4 linked regions of the Homo sapiens genome follow. The protein of the gene in region 1 purifies or fractionates together with the protein of each later gene. This does not show direct contact. Each region holds a gene or a part of one and is shown on either strand. Other genes may lie near its edges.

Region 1 (5,411 bases):
AGGTAATGAGAGATTTGGGTTACAAGAGGGAGGTGATCTTACCAAAGTCCTAACAGGGTCCATCCCGTTAGCGTGGAGAGCAGACTGTGGGGTTGAGGGAAGAGGAAAGAAGATCAGAGTGGAAGCTACAGCCAGTCCAGGGTAATGGACCAGAGTCATTGATTAGGAGATGTGTTGCATTCTGGATGCAAATTTTTAAAGGGAGCAACTAAATTTTCTGATGTAGACAGCGAGGGAGTGAAACAGGATTCAGCGATGACCCCATGGTTCTTCAACTGAGATGGAGAAGTTGGTATTAACAGTAATATTCACTGGAGACAACAGGAGCTTTATTTGGTCATGTAAGAGTTTGAGATGTTTCAGAGACATTAAGTAGGCATTAAGTAGGTGGCTGAACACCCAGGTCTGGAAATCTGGGGAGTGCTTCAGAATGGAGACATCCAAAATGTGGTGGTCATTGTGTGGACTAAGGTGAGTGAGCTGTGGATTACATTTAGAAGGGTTGTTCTATTTTTTTTTTTTTTTTTTGAGATGGAGTGTCTCTCTTGTTGCCCAGGCCAGAGTGCAATGGCGCGAGCTTGGCTCACCACAACCTCCGCCTCCCGGCTTCAAGCAATTCTCCTGCCTCAGCCTCCCGAGTAGCTGGGATTACAGGCATGCGCCACCACGCCCGGCTAATTTTGTATTTATTTAGTAGAGACAGGGTTTCTCCATGTTGGTCAGGCTAGTCTTGAACTCCCAACCTCAGGTGATCCACCCGCCTCAGCCACCCAGAGTTCTGGGATTACAGGCGTAAGCCACCGCATCCGGCCTACAAGGGTTAATCTTTAGGCATGGTGGTACAGGTTATTTGGCCAGGAAGGGCAGAATGGGGGCTAAGGACCAAGCCTTTTGGTTGGATAAGTGGGTGATATTCTTGGGCTTTCTAAACAGAGGTAAGGGAGGTTAGTGGCTATGGAGGTAGGGTGTTTGGAGAGGATAGTTGGGCAGGTGGCATACACTTTCAAGGGAAGAGTGGATATAAGGTGGATGCAGAGGCATAGGTGTATTTGAGGCAAATGGCTGTCCTTTTTTTCCTTTGTGCTTATTCAGCACTCTGTGGAATCACCAGGATTTTTTGATGACTTTGATGGGGCCTAGGGTGTTTATTCAACCTGGAGGATAAGGCCAGGTGCCAATGTGGTCATCTGTGACAGTCACTTGGCCTGGGGTAGGTGATCAGTGGAGCTAGTCTTTGAGTGTTAAGTGGACAGAGGAAGGTTGTTACTGCTGAGGGGCTAGCAAGTGCAGCACGGAAGTGGAATAGGGCCATGGGTATCTGAGATGCACATGTGGTTCTGTGTGGCCTAAATCTGAGGCAAAGAATGGAGCCAGCCAGGGAGCCCTCATAGGATTTGGGGCTGCTACCACTAGTGGATGCCCTGGGAGATCTAGGGTAGTATTAGATCCGTTTGAATCTGTCGAGCATACTCTGGACGCTGTGTGCTAAGTTATGGTGTAAAGTCTAAAATTAAGGCCCAGTATGACATCTGGTGAAATCAGGGTGGCATCAAATGGCCTGAGTACAAGTTTCCCTCCCTACTCTTCTCCCAAACAGACAACCCTTTTAATCAAGGAGACCAGGCACAATTTCTGCCTATCACTTTGTAGCAGATTTCAGCTCCCTACCAGGTCATGGAGTTTTCCAAACAAGCCCATTGTGGGAACCAGGGGGCAGTTGATCCTTTTGTTCTCAAAGTGCTTGCATCCCACAGTTTTTGGTTATTCACTTTTTTTCTGGACTAGACCCCCATGTGACCCTGTGTGGTACATGTTGTCCTCATCTCCCAGGTTCTATGTACATATGATTAATAAACTGCTATATCATCTTTCTTTTTTTTTTTTTTTTGAGACGGAGTCTCGCTCTGTCGCCCAGACTGGAGTGCAGTTTCGCAATCTTGGCTCACTGCAACCTCCGCCTCCTGGGTTCAAGCAATTCTCCTGCCTCAGCCTCCTGAGTAGCTGGGATTACAGGTGTGCTTCACCACGCCCGGCTAATTTTTGTATTTTTAGTAGAGATGGGGTTTCGCCATATTGGTCAGGCTGGTCTTGAACTCCTGACCTCGTGATCCACCCGTCTTGGCCTCCCAAAGTGCTGGGATTACAGGCATGAGCCACCATACCCAACTGCTGTATCGTCTTTCTAGTGTCAGGTATTGTGTGTTTGTCCATATCCATAACCCTAGTGTGGCAATCCTGCCTTCGCTAATGGGGTAAAGAGGAAGAGATTAAAACAGTGACATGGGAGGTAAGAGCAGGGAGATGCCTATGGTGTGGGCAGTGAGGTGGCAGCCCTGGGCTTGGGGCTGTGGTGTCTGGAGATAGGAGGGATGTGTATTCTGAAGAATGATGTGCATCTGGAAAGGGAGTAAGTGACAGCTGCAGGGCCCTGGTATTGAGACTTAGATGACCTTGGACATTTCAGGGGGATTTCATGATGGGATAGTATGGATCCTTCCATGCCAGGCCCCCAGCTTAGATGCCTATTTATCCATGTGCTGGTTTCTCCTCTCAGTTGGGGAGCTTGGGAAGAGAATGGGCATGGGGTAAAGATGTGGGGGTATGCATTGTGGGTCCTTGGGATAGGGGCTCTTGGTGGTTTCATCTGTTCCCATTGTGGCAGGGCACTGTGACCTTTGAAGATGTGGCCGTACACTTCTCCTGGGAGGAATGGGGTCTCCTTGATGAGGCTCAAAGATGCCTGTACCGTGATGTGATGCTGGAGAACTTGGCTCTTTTAACCTCTCTAGGTAAGGTTCTTTTACCCTTTCCTGTGCCCTGAGCTAGTCTGTGCCCTTCCTCTTTTCTCTATAGGCAGGTCTGTCCTTCTCATGACAAGACTATGGGCTCTGCTTCTTTCTCAGTTCCCTGCATAGTTCTGTCATTGGTAAGACTAAGGTGTGCATACTGTCTTCTCCTCTCCTTGAGGAGCCCCAGTACCTGTTTCCTCACAGCCTCACAGGGAAGGATTCAGAGTCTGCAGTCTTGCAGTCACCCTAGTGGATCCCACCTTGATTGTCCCCTCCATGTCTGGGTGACTTTTTCCAGATTTGAGGATCCTGTGTGCCCCAGCTACTACTTCCATCCCGAGCTGGCATTTCATTATGCCTGCCTATGCCAGGAGTTATTGTCACTGACATGGTCACTACTTATGTAGACCATGGACTCTTCTTACAAAGTATTCCTCTGAAATTTTCTTTGTAGTATTTGTGTGTGTGTGTGTTTTTCCTGTGGGCTGTCATGTGCTGAGTTTTTTGTGGGACAGTGCAGGCTGCTCTTCTGTTCTTTCTTCCCTTAGTACTTACATTATCCAGATGCTGTATCAGAGCAGCAACCTGTTCTGTTTGGCGAGCATTTTGGTGCCAATGCCAGTGGTCACAGCTCACTTCCGGTTTCCCTTCACCATTCTTGACATTTTGCTGACAAGTCAGCTCTACTACTTGTCACTTCTGCTCTTAACATCCAGCCTGGGGCTAATCCTCACATCTCTGGACTCCGTATCTTATCTGTTTTTCTCACTGCTACACCTGCAGTTCTTTCTAACGTTAGCCTCTATATAGTGTGTCATGAGGTATGCACATACTCTTTTTTTTTGAGACGGAGTCTCACTCTGTCACCCAGGCTGGAGTGCAGTGGCATGATCTCGGCTTACTGCAACCTCTGCCTCCCAGGTTCAAGTAATTCTCCTGCCTCAGCCTCCTGAGTAGCTGTGATTACAGGCGCATGCCACTGCACCTGGCTCATTTTTGTATTTTTTTAGAGATGGGGTTTCACCATCTTGACCAGGCTGGTCTTGAACTCCTGACCTTGTGATCCACCCACCTTGGCCTCCCAAAGTGCTGGGATTACAGGTGTGAGCCACTGCGCCTGTCCTTGCACATACTCTTAAACAGTCCTTGAAGGCCAGCTGCTGCATTGCAGTCGTATTTCCATGGGCTTGCATATACTATTCTACATAGCACTCATGTGTCGCCAGCAGATAAGCTTCTGCTAAAGTTGTTTGCAGAGGATTTAGTTTTAGACCCTGCCTCTCTCTTTGTGATACCTCATGGTTGTGGCCTTTACCTCTTGAGATCTCCCACATTCCTGTAATCTTTTTTTTTTTTTTTTTTTTTTTTGAGACGGAGTCTCCTTCTGTCACCCAGGCTGGAGTACAGTGGTGCAATCTTGGCTCGCTGCAACCTCCGCCTCCCGGGTTCAAGTGATTCTCCTGCCTCAGCCTCCTGAGTCCTGGGACTACAGGCACCCACCACCATGTCCAGCTAATTTTTGTATTTTTAGTAGAGACGGGGTTTCACCATATTGGCCAGGCTGGTCTCAAACTCCTGACTTTGTGATCCACCCACCTTGGACTCCCAAAGTGCTGGGATTACAGATGTGAGCCACCGCACCCGGCCCATTCTTGTAATCTTTATCCTAGAATTGCTAAACAGCCTCATCTGCAACTGAACCCAACTCTACTGTCATGCAAACGATCCCATGGACTTGTTCCTGGGTTTGTCATACACACACTTGTATAAGGGCTGCCCCCTCCCACCATAGTTAATGTGCACTTCACTAGCATTTCTTGCTTTTAGGTTTTTGGCATAGAGTGGTGGATGAGGAGGCACCTTCTGACAAGAGCATTTCTTTAGAAGGAGTGACCCAACTCAGGACTTCTAAGGCAGATCTTTCTCCCTAGAAGGCCCACCACTGTGAGACGTGTAGCCTGGTCTTGAGAGACATTTTGCTCTTGGCTGGGCCCTAGGGGACACATCATAGGCAGAAATTATATAGAGGTGGGGCATGTGGGAAATAATTGTATTTCATTGCAGATGTTCATCATCAGAAGCAGCACCTTGGAGAAAAACATTTCAGAAGCAATGTGGGCAGAGCCTTGTTTGTGAAGACCTGCACATTCCATGTGTCAGGGGAGCCTTCCACCTGCAGAGAAGTTGGGAAGGACTTCCTGGCCAAGTTGGGATTTCTCCATCAACAGGCTGCTCACACTGGGGAGCAATCAAATAGCAAAAGCGACGGTGGGGCCATCAGTCACAGAGGAAAAACTCATTACAACTGTGGAGAACACACAAAAGCATTCAGCGGTAAACACACACTTGTTCAGCAGCAGAGAACCCTCACTACAGAAAGATGTTACATATGCAGTGAATGTGGGAAATCCTTTAGCAAAAGCTACAGTCTCAATGACCATTGGAGACTTCACACTGGAGAAAAGCCTTATGAATGTCGAGAGTGTGGGAAGTCCTTTAGGCAAAGCTCTAGTCTCATTCAGCACCGGAGAGTTCACACTGCAGTACGACCTCATGAATGTGATGAATGTGGAAAATTATTTAGCAACAAGTCTAACCTCATTAAACATCGGAGAGTTCACA
Region 2 (4,544 bases), on another chromosome or scaffold:
TTTTCTATTTTCTAAGTACTCTGATTATTTACTTACAATTTTTGGTTACAGAATGATATATATGAGTCTGAATTTTGTGTATTAATTTAGGGCTTTTTAGGGAAACTTTACTAATTCTAGTTGTGGTAATAGTTTCTTATATCAGCAGATACATGGTGGCTATTGGCTAGAGTCAGGGCACTGTGCTAGATGCTGGAAACGCAATGAGATAAAAAATAGTCTCTGCCCTTGAGAAGCCAGACAGAATACCTACACCATTGATCACTAACCTTAGTAACAACTATGGTGCTGTTACTAGACGTCTAGCATTGTGCAAAGCACTCTGGAAGAATTAGTTCAGCAGCAAACAGCCTTCTGAAGTGGTTACTGATGTCCTCATGTTACAGATGGTTAGACTGACGCTCAGAGAGGATAAGTAACATGCCCAGGGTTGCACAGCTAGTAAGAAGAGCTGATTCTGGATTCGGGTTGATGATTCCAAAACTTGTACCCAGCACAGTACCTGGCACATAGCAGGTGCTCAGTAAATACTGTTGGCTGATACACTGATGCCACTGTTTGCTTATGCAAAAGACCTGACCTAATGGGTGACTCTGAAAATAGATACTACAGTCTTCAGAGAAGGCAAAGAGAACCCAGAACTACGACATCTGGGAAGGCTTTATGAAAGGGTCCTTTAAACTGGGCTTTGAAGTAAAGACAAGATGAGGAGAGGACAAACTGTCTTCTAGATAGGGGAAGGACACAGGTATGGGAACAGGAGTGTCAATAGTGGATGCAGGGACCACAGTAGTTTAACTAGAGGAGTGGATTCATCGCCTGGGGGCAGTGGGAGAAGAGGGTAGGCAGATGGGAGGGTTCACATTGTAGAAGAGCTCAAATATGCACCAAAGACTCAAAAAAGGTTCTGAGTCCAGGTGTGAGTGATGTGATGAAAGTGGTATTTTAAGGAAGATTAATCTAATGGCCAGTTATCTAAATGAATTACAGGGGAAGGAGAGAGGCAGAAAGGTTTTTAAAAATCTCTTATGACAGAGATGGAGACACTGTAAAAACAATTACCATTGTCCCATATAGCCTCAGCTTTCTTGCTGAAATAGAATTCTTCCAGCACCTTTGATGAGGACTAGGTTCTAGTGCTGAGAGCTGCTAGTAAGACTGCGTAAAATTCCTCACAGATAATATTGGCATTGTTTCAGTTAAGAATAGTATGGCCAGGCGCGGTGGTTAATGCCTGTAATCCTGGCACTTTCGGAGGCCGAGGCGGGCGGATCATGAGGTCGGGAGATTGAGACCATCCTGGCTAACATGGTGAAACCCTGTCTCTACTAAAAATACAAAAAATTAACCAAGCGTAGTGGTGGGCGCCTGTAGTCCCAGCTACTCAGGAGGCTGAGGCAGGAGAATGACGTGAACCCAGGAGGCAGAGCTTTCAGTGAGCTGAGATTGTGCCACTGCACTCCAGCCTGGGCGACAGAGTGAGACGCCACCTTAAAAAAAAAAAAGAATAGTAGCAGTATGTTGCCTAGATAACCACATGCCTGACACCTTATATATATTATTGCATGTATTCCTCACAACCCTACACATAGCAGAGAACACTGTACATATATAGGTTTAGACCTTAACCAAATAATATCCACCACCTGGAGTAATCAGAGGAATAAGGAATCAGTCCAAATCTTTCCAATTCCAGTGCTCATGTTCTTATCCCTCAGCCATTCTGTGTTTTGTCTAGAAGAGGACCATGATAGAGAGAGGGAGAGAGAGAGATCCAAGGGATGGTGGTAGAGTAGGAGACAGGAGGGAGATTGTAAGTTGGGGTAGAAGAAGCTGAGTGTAGGTATGCCAATGACTAAGAGAGTCTTTCTTTAGGACCTGAGACTGTTTGCTCCTTTACCATGTGATAAAATGAGAGCAAAGATAGTTACATATTTAATGAAAATATAGACACACTGGATAAGCAAAGGGAAAAACTGAATAATAACTTAAAAACACCCAGCCAAGCACAGTGGCTCACGCCTGCAATCCCAGCACTTTGGGAGGCCCAGGCAGGCAGATCACAAGGTCAGGAGATCGAACCATCCTGGCCAACATGGTGAAACACTGTCTCTACTAAAAATACAAAAATTAGCTGGGCACAGTGGTGCGTGCCTGTAATCCAAGCTACTCAGGAGGCTGAAGCAGGAGAATCACTTGAACCAGGGAGTTGGAGGTTGCAGTGAGCCCAGATCACGCCACTGCACTCCAGGCTGGTGACAGAGTGAGACTCCGTCTCAAAAACAAAACAAACAAACAAACAAAAAAACCAAAAAACCCACCTGACAGCCTGAGAATGGGGATGGGGGAGGTAGTGGGTTAAAGTGATGAATAGAAAAACTTTTACTGTTTACTGAATATAGTAGGGAATTTGTGGTGGTTCTTGTTCTTAAGTGGTGTGATGGTGGATGATCTTTTACATTTTCATTTATGTTTTCCATATATGATTTTAATTTAAAAATTACTGTTGAAAGCTTAGAAAAAGTACTGTTTTGGCCGGGCGCGGTGGCTCACGCCTGTAATCCCAGCACTTTGGGAGGCCGAGGCGGGCGGATCACAAGGTCAGGAGATCGAGACCATCTTGGCTAACACGGTGAAACCCCGTCTCTACTAAAAATACAAAAAATTAGCCGGGCGCGGTGGCGGGCGCCTGTAGTCCCAGCTACTCGGGAGGCTGAGGCAGGAGAATGGCATGAACCTGGGAGGCGGAGCTTGCAGTGAGCCGAGATTGCGCCACTGCAATCTGGCCTGGGCTAAACAGCGGGACTCCGTCTCAAAAAAAAAAAAAAAAAGAAAAAGAAAAAGTACTGTTTCAGAAACAAACATGCCTTCATATTCTTTTTGTGTATACTTTACAGATAAATTTGGACAGCGGGCATTTGTGGGCAAAGTTTGCATGGATTTGAATGACACTTTTCCAGAATACAAGGAGACCACTGAGGAATCGATCAAGGAAACTGAGAGGTAAAAGGCCCATTTGTCTTGATTTGTCTTACAGGTGAATTCCTGTGCTGCACTGATGGAGTTAGAGATGGAAAAAGGAAACAGGATACTGTTATCACCCAGTTGGGATGTGCACATAGTGACTCAGAATGTTCTGTTTAATGCAATGGGTCGGTTAGTCTACAGTGAATTTGATCAAACACTCGATAATCATTAATGATTTACAAAGAGCTTTCCTTTGTAGTGCCACACTTGATCCTCATAGAAATCTCCATGAAGCATCTGTCTTTTTATTTATTTTTTATTTATTTTTATTTTTTTTTTTTGAGACGGAGTCTCACTCTGTCATCCAGGCTGGAGTGCAATGGCGTGGTCTCAGCTCACTGCAACCTTCAGCTCACTGCAACCTCTGCCTCCTGGGTTCAAGCGATTCTTCCACCTCAGCCTCCTGAGTAGCTGGGACTATAGGTGCATGCCACCACACTCAGCTAATTTTTGTATTTTTAGTAGAGACGGGGTTTCACTATGTTGGCTGGGCTGGTCTCGAACTCCTGACCTCGTGATCTGCCCGCCTCGGCCTCCCAAAGTGCTGAGATTACAGGCGTGAGCCACCACGCCCAGCCCACATCTGTCTTTTATGATAAGGAAGCTGAGTCTGACATAGGCTAAGAGGCTTGCTCACAGTCATACAGCTTTTAAGTAGTGGAGCCAGAATTCAAAACCAGGGTCTATGACTCTAAATTCAAAGTTCTTTTTTTTTTTTCTTTTCTTTTCTTTTTTTGAGACAGACTGTCACTCTGTCACCCAGGCTGGAGTGCAATGGCGCGATCTCAGCTCACTGAAACCTCCACCTCCTGTGTTCAAGAGATTCTCCTGCCTCAGCCTCCCGAGTAGCTGGGATTACAGGCACGTGCCACCACACCCAGCTAATTTTTGTATTTTTAGTAGAGACGTGGTTTCACCAGGTTGGCCAGGCTGGTCTTGAACTCCTGACCTCAGGTGATCCACCTGCCTTGGCCACCCAAAGCACTGGGATTACAGGCATGAGCCACTGTGCCCGGCTCAAAGTTCTTTCTCTCATGATATAGATCACACCTCATATTCAATGTAAGTAAAGAGAATAAAAGAGAGAGAAACAGAGGGTATGCAAGAATACTTGCTATGGCATGTGTTAATTTAAAAATGATGATGGAAGTGAATAATTATTTGTGAAATAAAATAGTATACAAGAAGTTAGGAAAAATGAGTTATAGTTACAGGTTAATGAAAGACTTTCACTACAAAAGGATTTTTTTAAAAGATACCAAAGTAATATGTGTTTCCATGGTCCAGAACTTAGAGAAACACAAAAAGGTATAAAGAAGAATTTTTTTTTGTAATGAAACCACCAAAAGTTACCATAATAGGGTATCTTTTATTGTTTTCTCAAGGTGGTATATGCATCCTTCACTACTATTTCGTCCTACCTTGGGAACAGGAAAGTTGTTCTGGATGTATGCTGTAATGGCCATAACAGGCTAATATAGGGATCTAGAATATCCCCTCTCCACAAAGGTGACCTG
Region 3 (4,544 bases), on another chromosome or scaffold:
CTTATTCTAGAATTTCTTCCTTCTTGAGAGTGCTGGGGGGAAAGATTAGCTTCCAGCTGACTCACATGTTTGGCCTCTTGCAATGCAGAGTTTTTAGTTTTCCTATGAGTTGCATGTCTAGATACTGACCCATTCTGCTCCTGGATGAGGGTTACCACTTCCAAACAGGATTCCCCAGTGCATGGAGCCTTTCTCTAAAATAAGAAAGCGAAATCAGAATTTAACCTCTGAAAAGGAAATGGAAGGATCAAAGTCTGTGGGGGTGAGCCAGGGTAAATGGGAGGTGGGAGATTTCAGTGGAAACTGGAGGTCTCCTGTGAGCCATTGGTGTGAGTCAGTCCTTGAGCCAGATCGTGTTGGGAGGGCACTGGCAGAATCTGCTGTCAGCCTGCAATGAAGAATGTCCTCCACTCTAACCCAAAGGGGTGTTCCCTGGTGAGGCCCTGCTGAGAAGCTAGGGTTGGTCTCGCTTCATCTCTGTGTCCTGAGGTTTCTTGAGAAAGGTTGGTTGTGGGCCCGCAGAGGGCTGTGCTCATCCCACCCTGGGCTGTGTGAGTACTGCCCATGCTCTCTGCTGAGGACACCTGTATCTTGAGGCAGGAACAGAGACAGAGTGAAGGTCACAGGGAGAGAGAAGAATTTTGCAGCCATATTTGGCTGGCTTCAGGCATTTAATCTGACTGAATAGGGTTCATTTCTTCAGTGACTAGGGCAGTAGATTCTCTAGGCACCTGCTGCCCCGGGGCAGAGCATGTGTTTCTGAGAACCTGGTTTATCCCCTTTCTATTCCAGAGCAGCTCCGGTTGTCTCACTGTATGTTTTGGAAACTGGTTGTATCCAATTTAGACCTTCATTGCTATTCACTGGCTAATCAATCAGCAAATATTTGTTGAGTGATAAGCATTGTTTGCATTGCAGTTGGGGAAATGAGCTACTCATAGAAGGAAAATTGGCAACTGTTACAAAGCTGTGTTTGAAAAAGGCCAAAGGAGTGGTTCAGCCATTTCTTATGGGAACCCAGGGGAGGGGAAAGTCACAGAGGGCTAATCTGATCACCAGAGGCCTTCATGCCAGTAGTTATTTATTACACGCTTGCCTTATGCCAGCACTTTGCTAAGGGCCTTCACAGGCCATTATTATGACAATCCTTACCCGGGAAAATATCTGTACTATGGATATTGTCTTCCTCTTTTTTTAAAACAGGTAAGTAACTTTCCAGGTTTACACAGATGCTGGAGAAGGTCATTGACTCCAGCTCTTTTTGGCTTTCTGGAGCCTGGGCAGGTAGAGAGGTGGGTGGAGGAGGAAGGATACTCCAGGTGGAAAAACAGCATGTGCCGAGCTATGGAGGTGAGGTTCGTAAGGCGTGTGTTTGAGTGACAGTGAGCAGTGTTGGTTTTGCCCCCCTTCTCTTCCACGGCACAGGCCACATCTGCTATGTGTACCTGTGATTCCCAGCACAGAGCCTGGTGCAGAGTAGGAGCCCACTGCACGTTCATGGTGGCCAGTGGCCTGAGCCTCACAGGATTCCAAATGACAGCGTGAGTGTAGAACCTTCTGCTGGTGCCGTGGATCCTCTTGACTCAGACCGGGGGTGTCAGCCAGGTGTGAGGGGTAGAGAAGGCATTTTGTCCATCCAGTGACGTCACTGCCCAGAAACTGTCAGCAAGGAGGAAGGAAGGCATGAGTTGGTGACCGCATAGTGCTGACTAGCTGGACAGGGCATAAACTAACTCTCTGTGTCAGGAGAGCTCCTGAATTCTTCGGTGTAGAGTCCAGAGCTGAGGGTCAGTAGATTCTAGTCACTAGACCACCAGGTCTGACTGGCTCTTGGTGGTTTGGGTAAATCTGTGCCTCTGTCTTCATGGAAGTCCAGACCCACTTAACACTCGGAGGCTGCATGTTTCTTGTTAAGAGTTGTTTGCCATCCAGCACCTCAACGGTTGTCAGAGCTAGAAGGGGCATTAGAGATCATTCATCCTGGCCCTCGCTGATCCAGGAGGAAGCAGAGGTCCAGAGAGACATGTGGAGCTCACGGTGCTGCAGCCAGTTAAACTCCAAGCAAGGCTTCCTGCTCCACCCAGTGCCCTCCCTGCACTTGTGAGTGGGGCAGGGGACGCTGCCCTTGACTCCAGACCAAGCCCCCAGTGGGGGCTCAGCAGAATCCCCACAACACCCCCTACCAGAGGGCATCCCCTCACCCATCAATCCAAGATTTACAGCTGTCCAACTTCTCTTGCCTCGCCACCCTTCCCCTCTCCATTAGTCCATTTATTCTGTGGTTGGTAGAAAAATTACGCTGTTCAGAGCAATAATTGCACCAGGAAAGGGTTTTCTCCCCAGTAGTAGAGCTAGACTGATACTACTGATCATTTTGGTGTTAGGCATTTAAGACACCTGACACTTCAAAAAGCCTCTGTCACCCAGCTCTGCATTGCGTTGACAGTAAAGCTTAAATGCAGCTTTGCTTTAACAATGGAGCACTCACATAAGGACCTTCTCTATTCCATCTCCTGTTACTTGTCAAAAGACAAAATTACACCACATTCAAAAATCTTAACTGGCTTCTATTTGTGATTCTGGAATCGGACAACACCACATTCTGTCTTACAGAATGAGTATTCTGATGAGCTGAGCAGAGGAGTTTGGCTTTATAGACAGAAAAAGGCTGAAGAAAGTAGAAACAGATCAAAAATCTGATTGGTTATTTCGGTCCCTTTTAAAGGTTAAAGCAGAGGAGACTTCTGTATGTTGGCTGAAACTGGCTTGTTTGAAGATTTGACTGTTAACTCACTCTCTCCTGATCTTGGAAGGTCAGATCGACAGCTTAGTTTTGGCTTGGTGGCGTGGAACTTCAGCTTGAGGGACTCCATCTTGGTTTGGTCTCTTGGGCCTTGTGCAGGAGCTCAGTCCCAACCAATGGCCTCCTAGAAATATTATTTAACAGTTCTCCCCTTTTGGTCAGGTTCTCACCTAGGTGAGAGTTACTAAAACAGGGCATCAGCACTACTCTCAGTAATCATCGTTTTGGGTTTTCGGTCTTAACACATCATTTATAGGTTAAGGTGTCCTCATTATCATGCGTTTCTTGGAGTTTTATCATTCCAGCTGGAGAGAGACCATTTAGCATTCAGCAGAGGGCTGCATATAGATATTTAAGACTCTTTGAGAGGATACAGTGTAACAGGGAAACTACTGTAATGACTCTCCCCAGGATAATACTAAGAGTTTACAATATGACGCTTAGCCAGGGACCCATGAACCAAACCAACTAAAATTGAAGAGATCAAAGAATGAGCCAGATGAGGAATTTACCCTTTTTAAGCAAGTACTATTTGTTCATTTTTTTGCAACTGAGTCTCAATACACTATGTGTCTATCCATGTGCAACAGAAAGTGTCAGCAATTGCACAGATTCCCTGTTCGCTAGTAGGTAGCAGTTCTATTATCTAGTATCCCATGACTGGGTTAAATTAAAGCAGGAAGTGAGAACACATGGGTCTAAAAGTCTGACTCTATAAAAGGGACCACTAGTACAGTTTGAACAACAGTTGTGTTAGGGATGTTGCTGAAGTTACCCACTGGGCAGACTAAAGGATCCCTTTGGTCATGTAAAGATCTGGGTTTAGCGTGACAAATCCAACAGTTTGTGAAGTTACCCACAGAAGCCACTGATTGTGAAATTCTAACTACAGCATTATCCTGCCAGACAAAAAAAGGTAGATGTAATCAAGGATAAAGTGGAAGTCTTATTCCAATGAAACTCTTGTTCAGAAGTTTTGGGAAAGCATGAAGTTGTCAACTTCTTGTCCTGGTTTGCAGTTTGATTGTCTCTGGTTATGGCATTGGGCATTTTGGTGAACTCTTTGTGTAGCGTACACGTCAGGCATGAGACTTGTCCCTTGAAATGTATATCAAGTTGTTCAGCTTCTGTTTATAGGGCTTTAGGCACAGAACAGTTCCTGTTCTTAGTTGGAGAATTGTAGCTAGTTATTGGAAGAAACTGGAAGAATTCAGAATTCAATCCATCTTATAGGTAGATGATAAAAACTTGAAAATGATCAACAAGGCTACAATCTAATAACAGATGTACTATAGTTTTTCTTTAGGAACATATTTTTTCTCTCTATAGTCACCCCCATTTCTACCAAAGATAATCAGGGTAAGTGGGAGGCAGAGGTCACAGTGAGCCGAGATTGCACCACTGCACTCCAGCCTGGATGACAGAGCAAGACTCCATCTAAAATAAAATAAAATAAAATAAATAAAATAAAATTCAGACTAATTTGCTTGCAGAAAATATTTAGTCACATCAGACTTGGCCTAATTATTTACATAAGTGTGGCAAGAATAGTGATTGACCACGTAGGCTCTTCTTAAGTTTGCTTTGCTAGAACTTATCGATAAGGAATCTCAGATTGGACTTTTAACAACTTCTCAAGGCTAGGAAGTCAACCCAAGCCCAACTTCAGATTTCACCTGCAGTACCTATAGATTCATCATAGGTATATTCTCAAGTATGGCATCACACTCAAAACCTTGGT
Region 4 (4,544 bases), on another chromosome or scaffold:
TGATAATTTATGGTCCCAGAGATTCCCGGTGGCCTAATCTGTGTGAATGATGCAGTGTTGACAGCACAGCGAGCTTCCCTTGCCTGACAGGTGTTCAGGGTCTGGAACGAGGGAGGACCGGCCCCTTTTATGGAAGGGGCTGAGTCGGGCGGGCGCCTGACCCTTCTGCACCCGTCCTTTCCACCTCTGCAGAGGCCCAGTGCAGGACGTGCAGCCCCAGGCTTCCCGCTTGCCCTGCGGGGAATGTGTCCTGCTCTCGGGTTACGCTGGAGCAGAAGGGCCTTCCAGGCTATTTGTAGTGCCCATGTGTCTCTGTCTAAAACCAGATAGGAGGCAGTAGTCCCAGTCCTGGCATCCTGGTCTGCATTTAGAGCAGGCTTAAAAAAATAAAAATAACCCCCAAGCCCATCCTCCAGCTCCCTTACAGGACAGCCCTGTGGTAGCTGAAGCTCACAATAGACAGGAGTAGGAGAAAACCCTTTCAGCCTTTTCCCCACCCCACTGATGCGGGGCGTAAGCAAAGACACTTTAAAAATGGTCGTCGGGATTGGCCGCGCACAGTGGCTCATGCCTGCGATCCAATCCCAGGACTTTGGGAGGCCAAGGCAGGTGGATTGCTTGAGCTTAGGAGTTTGAGACCAGGTTGGGCAACGTGGCAAGACCTCACCTTTACAGAAAATACAAAAAATTATCTTGGTGTGGTGGTGCACACCTGTGGTCCCAGCTACTTGGGAGGCTGAAGTGGGAGGATCGTTTGAGCCCGGATGGCAGAGATTGCAGTGAACCCAGATGGTGCCACTGCACTCCAGCCTGGGCAACAGAGTGAGACCTCATCTCAAAAAAAAAAATGTAGTCAGCCCATGTTAACTCTGGTTCTTGCTATGGAATGGCATTTAAAGTGATTTTTACTTTCTCCTTTGAACTTTCTGTTTGAATGATTGATTGATTGATTGATTGATTGATTGACACAAGATCACACTTTGTCTCCCAGGCTGGAATACAGTGGTGCAATCACAGCTCACTGTAGCCTCAGACTCCCAAGCTCAAGTGATCCTCCTGCCTCGGCCTCCCAAGTAGCTGGGACTACAGGCACACACCCCCACACTTGGCTATTTTTTTTTTTTTAGAGACGGGGTCTAACTATGTTGGCCAGGCTGGTCTCAAACTCCTGGCCTCAAGTGATCCTCCCGTCTCAGCCTCCCAAAGTGCTGGGATTACAGGCATGAACCACCGCACTTGGCCTGTTTGAATCATTAAAACAAACCTGTATCATTTTTACAAAAGCAGTTGTTGTTTTTTTTTTAATTTAAAAGGCAATTGGGACCTCTAATATTTGGAGACTCAAACATTTTTTATAAATGTCAATGCTGATCATCACTTTCTTTTTCTGCTGTCTCCCGAGTTTTGTCCAGCCTATGTCTGCAGCTTCCAGGAATCTTGCCATCATAGGTCAAATATCCCTTATCCAAAATGGCCTGGGACCAGAAGTGTTTTGGATTTTAGATTTTGGAATATTTGCATTATATAATACTTACCGGTTGAGCATCCCAAATTTAAAAAATCCAAAGGCTCAAAAATCTGAAACTTTTTGAGTGCCAGACACAATGCTGAAAGGAAATGCTCATTGGCGCATTTTGGATTCGGTATGATGAACCTGTGCCATTGAAGCTGGCACCATGTCTCTGAGGGAGAGTGCTCCCTTTGCAGGGACAATCTGGGGTGGAAGGCAGGTGCTTTTTTTTTTTTTTTTTTTTTTTTTTTTGAGATGGAGTTTCGTTCTTGTTGCCCAGGCTGGAGTGCAGTGGAATAATCTCAGCTCACTGCAACTTCCACCTCCTGGATTCAAGCGATTCTCCTGCCTCAGCCTCCCGAGTAGCTGGGATTACAGGCATGCGCCACCATGCCCAGCTAATTTTTGTATTTCTAGTAGAGATGGGGTTTCACCATGTTGGCCAGGCTGGTCTTGAACTCCTGACCTCAGGTGATCCTCTCGCCTCAGCCTCCCAAAGTGCTGGGATTACAGGCTTGAGCCACGGCACCTAGCTAATTTTTGTATTTTTAGTAGAGACGGGGTTTTGCCATGTTGCCCAGGCTGGTCACGAACTCCTGACCTCAGGTGATCCGTGGAAGGTGGGTGCCCTTGAAGGTCTGCTGTGAGCTGTGCTTCAAAGACAGAGAATGCTCTCTGCCTGTGGGAGGCGGAATTTGGAGCTCCCCAGGAAAAGAAGTGGGTGAAGAGCAAAGGTGGCAGGTGAAGAAAAGAGGGAGCCAGGAGACGGTGGTTGCGTGTTGCATATTGTGACCCCTCCCTGCTCCCCTAGGAACCCCTACACTCTCATGTACTCAACTTAGAAATAACAACAGTGGGGACCATATGGATCATGGCCCAGTGCCCTGGTTGCCTGCTGGGGAAGCCGGCGATCTGGACAGCGGAGGATGACACAGGGCATGGCATCCACTCCCATCCTGACTGCCACCCTGGACTTGAAGACTTGCCACCAGGGCAGGGGCCCACCAGGGGTCATTATCAGAGGGTAAACGCAGCCTCTAGAATGAGGAGGGGTCAGCTTGCTGTCTTCTGCAGAGGCTGGACAACACCCGGAAAATGCCGGCAATTCTGAGGGCCTCCTATGAAGTGGGTTAGGGAGTGGCAAGACCTGGTTCGGAGAGGTGGGTCCTGGGTATCCTTTGTGGGAACAGTTAAGGAACCAGAGCTGTTTAGTTCAGAGAAAGACATGGAAGGAAGGTTTTCTTCTGGCGTGTGAAGGGTTCTGACATGGGGGAAAAATCAGACTGAGAATAAGTAGCCTTATGGGGTCAGCAGGTAGAAAGTACACACAGGCACAAATAGCGTAAGAAATGTTAGAAGAACTTTCTCGTGGTCAGAGCATCTGCAGAGGGTTCTGAGCTGTCCTTGGAGGAAATTGGGTCCCCTTTCCCTGGACCCTGAGATGAACAAGCTGAGGCAGGGCCTTTATAGAGGTGATTGGTGCTTCTGACGGGGGTGTTTGGATGGTTGGAGGTCCTAGAGTCCTCATGCTGTCCCTACTTAACATGTGGCACCACTGAGGCCACCGCCGTCAGTGCTGATAACCAGAGCATGTGTGGAGCCTGTTTCTACACACCTGGGATCCTCCAAATAGCAGGTGTGGGAGTGGAGGTGCCCCAGCTGTGTGGCAGGTGGAAAGGAGGGCACCAGATATGAAATGATCGCTCAGGAAGGTGAACTCAGGTCCCCAGCCTCTCTGAACTCAGATTTTCTTTTCTTTCCTTTTTTTTCCCCTTGAGATAGAGTCTCACTCTGTCGCCCAGGCTGGAGTGCAGTGGCATGATCTTGGCTCACTGCAACCTCCGCCTCCCGAGTTCAAGTGATTCTCCTGCCTCAGCCTCCCGAGTAGCTGGGACTGCAGGCATACGCCACCACACCCAGCTAATTTTTGTATTTTTAGTAGAGACGGGGTTTCACCATGTTAGCCAGGATGGTCTCCAACTCCTGACCTCAAATGATCTGCCCACCTCAGCCTCTTAAAATGTTGGGATGACAGGCATGAGCCACCGCGCCCGGCCTGAACTCAGATTTTTCAATGCTTTATCATCGACAAAGCACCTTTGCACGCCTGCTCGCATCAGAGGGCCAGCTTCCCTGACATCGAGCCCTGCCCTGGCCTGTCCCAGGGAGAAAGGGTGCCCGCTCATTGGGCCAAACCCACTCATCACCCCACAAAGCCTGTTGGATTCACTTACAGGCCACCCGCTACAACTCCAAGCAGGAGGTGGGGAGGGGATCCAGGACAGATGCCTCCATTTCGCCTTGACATTTGGTTTCTGGTAGGAGGCCTGGCGTCCAGCCAGCACAGCAGAGCAGGGCCTGCGGGTAATGTTACAGTCTTGTCTCTGGAGCACACAGCCGCGTGAGTCCTGGTAGAAAGTGCTGAGTGCGTCGTGCCAAACTGGGATGGGTCAGAGGAGTCTTGCTCGCTCGCTGGGGTCTCCCCTCTGGCTGGGCTCTCTGGGGAACAAGATGCATAAAGACACATTGTGGAATCACAGCCTCACAACAGGCCCACTGGGAGGGACAGCAGAGGTGGTATTCTGATTTTTTTCTTTTTTTTTGAGACAGAGTCTCGCTCTGTCAGCAGGCTGGAGTGCAGTAGCACGATCTCGGCTCACTGCAACCTCCACCTCCTGGGTTCAAGCGATTCTCCAGCCTCAGTCTCCCAAGTAGCTGGGATTTCAGGCGTGCACCACCATGCCTGGCTAATTTTGTGTTTTTAGTAGAGACAGGGTTTCACCATGTTGGTCAGGCTGGTTTGGAACTCCTGGCCTCAGGCAATCTGCCCGCCTCGGCTTCCTAAAGTGCCGGGATTACAGGTGTGAGCCACCGTGCCCGGCCAGTATTCCGATTTTGTGCTAAGGAAATGGGCACAGAACAGTGAAGCAATGGGAGGAGTCGGGGTTTGAACTCTACTGTTTTGATCTCACATTCAGGCCTCTTCTCTGTGATCCACCCTGCTTCTTAAAGCAAGGCATGATCGTCAAAATGG

The links.
Region 2: the proteins of ZNF154 (region 1) and GDA purify together in Homo sapiens (affinity purification with mass spectrometry; one large-scale study listed by BioGRID and IntAct). This does not show direct contact.
Region 3: the proteins of ZNF154 (region 1) and QSOX1 purify together in Homo sapiens (affinity purification with mass spectrometry; one large-scale study listed by BioGRID and IntAct). This does not show direct contact.
Region 4: the proteins of ZNF154 (region 1) and SMTNL2 purify together in Homo sapiens (affinity purification with mass spectrometry; one large-scale study listed by BioGRID and IntAct). This does not show direct contact.

Annotation. Positions count from the first base shown.
Region 1 is NC_000019.10:57,702,231-57,707,641, reverse strand, and holds part of ZNF154 (zinc finger protein 154), read left to right. Parts: exon of another isoform or gene 1-2,518; coding exon of another isoform or gene 2,519-2,662; coding exon 2,663-2,789; intron 2,790-4,853; coding exon 4,854-5,411. UniProt on the Homo sapiens protein: May be involved in transcriptional regulation.
Region 2 is NC_000009.12:72,210,989-72,215,532, forward strand, and holds part of GDA (guanine deaminase), read left to right. Parts: intron 1-2,897; coding exon 2,898-3,003; intron 3,004-4,544. UniProt on the Homo sapiens protein: Catalyzes the hydrolytic deamination of guanine, producing xanthine and ammonia.
Region 3 is NC_000001.11:180,156,918-180,161,461, forward strand, and holds part of QSOX1 (sulfhydryl oxidase 1 isoform a precursor), read left to right. Parts: intron 1-4,544. UniProt on the Homo sapiens protein: Catalyzes the oxidation of sulfhydryl groups in peptide and protein thiols to disulfides with the reduction of oxygen to hydrogen peroxide. Plays a role in disulfide bond formation in a variety of extracellular proteins.
Region 4 is NC_000017.11:4,600,578-4,605,121, forward strand, and holds part of SMTNL2 (smoothelin-like protein 2), read left to right. Parts: intron 1-4,544.